2 linked regions of the Homo sapiens genome follow. The protein of the gene in region 2 interacts with the protein of the main gene of each other region in a pairwise test. Each region holds a gene or a part of one and is shown on either strand. Other genes may lie near its edges.

What was found.
Region 1: the proteins of CPAP (region 2) and LYST interact in a two-hybrid assay, tested with the Homo sapiens proteins (one study listed by BioGRID).

Annotation. Positions count from the first base shown.
Region 1 is NC_000001.11:235,804,307-235,808,065, forward strand, and holds part of LYST (lysosomal-trafficking regulator), read right to left. Parts: intron 2,467-3,759; coding exon 1,437-2,466; intron 360-1,436; coding exon 198-359; intron 1-197. UniProt on the Homo sapiens protein: Adapter protein that regulates and/or fission of intracellular vesicles such as lysosomes. Might regulate trafficking of effectors involved in exocytosis.
Region 2 is NC_000013.11:24,881,766-24,885,007, forward strand, and holds the end of CPAP (centrosomal P4.1-associated protein), read right to left. Parts: intron 3,029-3,242; exon of another isoform or gene 2,938-3,028; intron 2,699-2,937; coding exon 2,558-2,698; intron 2,481-2,557; coding exon 2,396-2,480; intron 2,319-2,395; coding exon 2,198-2,318; intron 1,605-2,197; coding exon 1,412-1,604; 3' UTR 514-1,411; downstream 1-513. UniProt on the Homo sapiens protein: Plays an important role in cell division and centrosome function by participating in centriole duplication. Inhibits microtubule nucleation from the centrosome. Involved in the regulation of slow processive growth of centriolar microtubules.

The DNA.
Region 1 (3,759 bases), on a different chromosome or scaffold from region 2:
TGTATAAGACAGGGCAATGACAAAATACTGTCCATCCCATCACATATCCATCACGAGGAGATAAGATCCACTGAACTCATCTGACCAAGTCCTAGTCCATATGCTCTAATGACATTCATCAGCGTCCTAGTGTCATCCCACACTTCCGCCTCTGCTGGTCATACCCAAAGAACACAACTATATGTTGTTATTCATACCTTCTCAGTCATAGCATCATTATGTTCAAAATCTGCTGAATAATTCCCGAGGGCAACTCGAAGCAGGGCATCAAATAAAGGCTTTGCTAGTTGTGTTTCAATCACCTTTGACTGGGAAAGATGGTCCCTCATTTCAAATAATATACTTTCCACAGACAAGTTCTAAGGTAAAATAAAAGAGACTAAGAATATTAATAACCATTTTAAAAAACTAAATGATGAAAAAATAAATAATAAATATTTACTTAAGTATAAAGCTAATCCATTTATTTGCAGTTGATATGAAAGCAAAATGACTATATAAATATCTAGCTCTATACAAACATCCTGTTAAAATTAATAACATTTTTATTGATAAAATACTTAGTTCATCTTATTTGGTTTTCATTGCAGCATGGTAAAGAATGGCAAGAAATGAAGCTAAGCGAAGAAGTCAAAGCAAGACTGAAGAGTTTTGTGTGCTGTGTTAAAGCTTGTGAATTTCAATTGTGGAAATTCAGTGTGGAAGCATCAGGATTTTTTAGAGATAAGGCAACATGGAGGCTGGAACTGAAGTAGGAAGAGCCTGTTGGCTGACTGAACAGTTAGGTGTAAGTTAGTGAGGACAGAAGAGGTCTGCCATATTCCAGGTCCCTAGATTCCTTTTTAGTTGAGAAATGATCTCAGGAGAAAACTTGTAAGAATGTGAGGTAAAGCAGAAGAGGTTAGGAGAAGAATCTGGACAAAGATGTGGTTTTAGGAGAAGTCTCGTCCCAGCCTCATTTCCTGGGAAGCTCTGGAGCCTGAAGTGCCCCACAATGATTGTCCCCACTTCTTAGAGCCACATCTATCAGCATTAGCTATGAGCATCCTTCCCAGGCATCTTCCATCGGTCAAGGGTGATTCCTGGAAGATGGGTGCTGATGCGCAGATGGTGAATGGGTGATCAGTTTGGTAAAGGAGTTCTGGGCAGGGCAGCCAACAGTATCACACAAAAATTTAGATCTTTCAACTTTGAAACACAATATCCATTATTATTCATCTGACACTTATAAAATGTGTGTGTGTGTATGTGTATATATACATAAAACATAATATATACACATATATAAAAGTAATATATTATATGTTATATATAACACAATAATATATATATTACATATATTATGTAATACATATTACATTTTTTATATATATATGTGTGTGTGTATATATATGTATATATATTACATAAGAGTTGGACTAAGGACAAGGTATTACCTGATTAGGTAACTCCAATTCCATCTTCTGTTGACTAGTTCTGGCACCATGAAGACAAATGGCCAGAAGGGCTTCCAAAAGTCGTATACTTTGAAGTGAGGTCTCACTTTCTTGACTTGTAAATAGCTTTGCTTCCTCGGGAGCGGCTTCAGTAGCTGAAACTTCTTCCACATTTATGGAAGAAATATGCTGTAACTCTAATTTACCTAAACTGTCAGCACTCTTTTTTAGACTACCTAGTTCTGATGGTATGGGGTCACTTTTTATAGCCAAAGATAATAAATCTTCCTTCATAGTTCTCTTAGGTTGAGAAATTCTGTTTAAATCCTGGTTTTCATTTACACTTGTATCTCCCTCCTTTTTTCCTTGCTCCTCTTTGTGACTTCTGAACAGTTTCTGTATTATCATAAATATTAACTTATGGCATACTCGGAAACCACCAAGCCTATAAAACTGTTTCTGGAACACTGAACTCAACATGTAGATCCAACGACACATAGACCAAATGTCTGCTGCTTGGTGCATATGTTCAGGAGAAGGCAAGACAAGGCTCTCGAGAGATATACATGGCAGCATATGACTTAAAGGCTCGCTGGCTGTGCTGTCATAGCCAGAAGTATCTTCTGAGTCATTGGCCGACTCCCTGTCAGACTCTGCTTCTTTACTTACGCATAAAAAAGCCACACAGAGGAATAGGTTTATTGTGTTGATATGAACATCTTGGTTAACAGTCTTCCGTCTCTTTGGATAAGCTTCTTTGAGGCCAGCATAAAATTTGCTGAGACTCTGAGGAGAATCTGAATAAGCTTGCTGATGATGAAAAGAAGTACCCACATGTACAGAGGACAACTCCTTCTGTTCAATGTCTATCCCATCAATATCTGGAACTGAGGCATCTTTCTGTTGCTCCCCTAGGCTGATTATCAGAGTTTCAAATGCTTTTAGAGAATGACTTCGAATACCATTTAAGCAATTTAATTCGATTATTTGACTTACTCCATTACAACTCAAAAACAAATCTCTTATTACCCTGTGAAAGAAAAAAAGCATGTAAAAAGGTTTAAATAAAGAAACATCATTTATAAATAGGTACATATAATATTTAATATATCGCTATTGCATGTGGGATATACTAACCACTACCTAATTTTATTCATCAATTATCAGGCTAAAGTTCTTAGTTAGATATAATTAGGACCTCAAGTTACTTTCTAATTACTCTGATATCCTTCTTCAAACATTTGTATATATGGCTCCAGCAGTATCTAAAAAGAAAAGATTGCCTGTCCCACATTAAATGAAGCAATTCAGGGAAGAATATTTTTCTCCAAATGGCAAATTCTATATAAATTCTGAACACCACAGCCACCACCACACCTGAGGTGGACACCCTGAGGGCAGGCAAGCACGTGTTTGTTCATTAGTTTGTCCGCCTGATGGTTCACTTGGGAATTTTTGTTTACTTTAAATCTATACCTTATGAAGGGAAAGAATCACACTAGAGCTGAAAATCTACGGAAGGCTCAGCATCACATGAATTTCCCTTCTAATTGGGCTAATTGAACAGTCAATGGTACAAATATTATAAAAGTTTTTCAGCTCTGTCTCAGGTGAGACTTGTGTCTAGATCATTGGAATCCTAGTAATAACTTTAATATAAGCCAGCTAGGTGATTCTCAGCCCTTTCATCACAAAGATTCAGGTTGTCCACGAATACGCCAAAGAGTTACAAAACTTTCAAATCAGTCAGTTCTAGTTAAACAATGCCAAAATGTCAGAAAAATTTTTAAATGACTGTAAGGCATTGATTTAACATCAATAATAGTTTTAAAGTAGTTGTGCTAAGATTGACCAAAAAATGCCACACACGAAGATATTGATAGGTTATTTTTGTATAAGTTTCTAAAATGGTATATGCATTAATTTGAAAGACCAGTCTACCCATTCGTTTATAAAATTATTTTTAAATGCACCAGATTTGGCAATCACAAAGTCTGGAAAACTCACTGATAGGATTAAAAGTAATTTTAATATTCTTATTTTTGTTTATCTATATTTTCTAATTTTTCTACATATATTGCAGAGGTTATAAATGTAAATATAATATTTTAAAATTAATAATCCCATTAGTGCCTCTGCCTCAATAATCATTTTATGTATTATTTTACATGTAATACATATTTTACATAGTTGTAAATAAGTGAACACTATTTTAATTGTTTATATTTTACCCATAAGATATTATAATCATTTTCTCATATTCCAATATGATCTTTGTAAACATTTTCAATGGCCAATAATATTCTATCAAGGAAATATAAAG
Region 2 (3,242 bases):
CAGCCTGGCCAACATGGTGAAACCCCGTCTCTATATATCTAGATATCTATCTATATAGATACATCTATATAGATATATAGATACATCTATATAGATATATAGATACATCTATATAGATATATAGATACATCTATATAGATATATAGATACATCTATATAGATATATAGATACATCTATATAGATATATAGATACATCTAGATATATAGATACATCTAGATATATAGATACATCTATATAGATATATAGATACATCTATATAGATATATAGATACATCTATATAGATATATAGATACATCTATATAGATATATAGATACATCTATATATATAGATACATCTATATAGATATATAGATACATCTATATAGATAGATACATCTATATAGATAGATACATCTATATAGATAGATACATCTATATAGATATATAGATACATCTATATAGATAGATATAGATACATCTATATAGATAGATATATAGATACATCTATATATAGATACATCTGTACTTATATTCTTCAAAAAGTTTTATTTTTCATATTCAGTTAAGTCACCTGGAATTGATAGATTTCATTAACAAAACCTGATTCATAGTATATGTGACAGGTAAGGTCTATCTAGACCAATCTGTAATTATTTATTATATAAATTTACAAGTAAGTAAGTAAGTGACTTGCCCATCCTTCAGGGACATCTTGCTTCCATGAGGCTACAGTAATCTCACTGTGGTAACATCAGGGTAGCTGTGGTCCATGGGTTAACACTGGCTAGTCATCGTTCATGCCCCCCTCCACTCTCAAGTATCCCATTTTGAGACATTACATTACAAAGTCAGCCTTGTTATAACTGCTTTCTCTTCACCATGATTACTACCTGTTGTGTGTGACCTATTTATATTCATCCACTGTTGTAACTTCCCATTCTGTTATAATAATTAATGATCCTCTGTAGAAGATCAAATGGTCTAATTTTGGTACTAACTGAACATAGTAATATTTTGGCTACAGAGACACGTGTTTACTCCTTGAGTACACCTTCTGTACAAGTCCAGTGCTCTACGGCTGATGTGTCTGTGGGACATCTAGGTGATGTACTTCCTGTACTTCTTGGTTTTTTTTTATAGCCATTTCTAACCAATAAACACACCCACTTACTGTAAAAACCTGTACACAATTTCTAAACAGTCAAAATGCTTTCCTTAGTCTATTGAAAGACAGGGTAGTGAATTATAAATGAGAGCTATCATTGCATTTCAAAGAATATAAAAATGAAGATGCCACAGGGTAAACTTTTATTTTAGAATCTAATCTTTTCCCCACACATACACAATAAATTAAACAGAATCCACAGTAAATGTACATTTTTTAACATAAAAAGTCAGTTACTGTTACTTCATGATCACATGAGGATCGTCACAGCTCCGTGTCCATTAGCACATTACCCTCCTTGTCCTTAACTCTTATCCGACCGGATCTGTACTTCGTTTCTTGATGACCGTTTGCATATACGGTTTTAACAGTGCCATCTGGGTATTCCCGTCTCTTGAACTGGGCAGTATGTAGTTCTCTTTGGCCATTATTAAACTCTATGAGTTTGTTGCCATCACTGTAAAATTTAAAAAAAATATGATTTCTTAAAAAAAAAATAATAGAAAATAAACAACAGAAAAACTACTGAAAAGTAGCCTTTTGAGTCTGGCAGCTACTTCTGGAGACATCCCTTGGTTATCCCTATACAATTGTAACTTTCTACAGTGTTTCTGCTTCATGGTGATAGTTCCAATTATCAGATTAGCATTGTTTTAATCATTCATATTTTCATCACAAAATGCTTAGTAACTTTTTTCAACTTGTGTTCTTCCTTTTGGTTGTTATATTAAAAGGGACCCTTCTTTCACTAATTTAAAAACCATCTGAGTGTTTGTTTGCTCTGTATCAGGTGGGGAAGAGAGTTAGTTATTCCTGGGAAGGGGCATGATCAGACTTAAAAATCTGTTTTGAAAGAATGGAACAAAAAAGGAGAATGTGAAAAATAATTCACATCAAGTTGACTGACATGCCTGTGGGACATTCATTCAAACTGAACCCCCTAATATGGGTGTCACATATCATCAGAAACGCAAGGCTGGGGCACCTTCTGAGCACAGATGAACAGGTGTCACACTGAGTGGTTTTTCTGTGAACATAATGTTGCCATACCGTTGTACTCTGACAATTGTACCATCTGGGAAAATGCTTTCTTCTTGTCCATCAGGAAATAAGTTTTTAACAGTCTGGTCAGGAAACGTGATTTCTTTTCTTCCATCTGGGTAATGTTTTTCTGTTTAAAAAGTTGTTACAGTAAATATTTTTTGAAGGAAGGGAAGAATTTAATGAGAGGGTGGAGCAAGTTTGTACCTATTTGTCCACTTGAGAAATGTAAGACTTCCAGTCCCTCCGGGTATGTCGTGTGAGTGGTCTGGGCAGCTGCATAGTAGTAGATCTGTAAAGACACACAGTCAGTCTGCCTTTTCTCCAGAGATGGTTAAACTATGGAGGAGAACACCTCTGGAAACATACCACTCTTTGGTCTGGCATGACCTGCTTCACGTCACCATTAAAGAAAGTGACAGTGATGGTCTTCCCATCTGCACTCACTTCCTTTCGAGTTCCATTGGGAAACAGTATAACACGGCACCCATTCTTATAAACCTTTTCCACCTAAAAAACCAACACAAGATTATCACCTAAGATTTTCTCCTGACGAAAGTATGGCTAATTCTCCTCCCAACTGCCTACTTTGAAATTTTTTGTAATAAAATGTAAAACATTCCCTCAAAAGATCCTTTATTTCGTGAGGAGTAGCAAACTCGTGATTTTCTAATTTTCTCATTCCTTTTCCATGTATTAGCTGGAATTTACCTAAAAAAGAAAACCTTCCCTTATCAACAATTTGTTACCCTAAAGTAGACTTTGTACAGGAAAGTCTAACTACTGCTTTGCCTGTTGTTCTTTGTCCTTCTCTCATTCCTCAAGGATAGCACTCCAACCCTATAATTTCAATAGAAATGGACCAGATTAGGTATTCGAAAAGTAAATTTTCCATAAACCTGAGGAAAAAATTCCCTCATCACCTCTAACCTGTATATATCCCTTTCTTCCTCATTCCCTTTAGCTGGAACCCCCAGGCAGTTTTCCCACTAAGAAACTTTCCTAAGCATAAGAATAAAACTGTGCTAGCTGGAGATGAGGAGAGAGGTCCCTG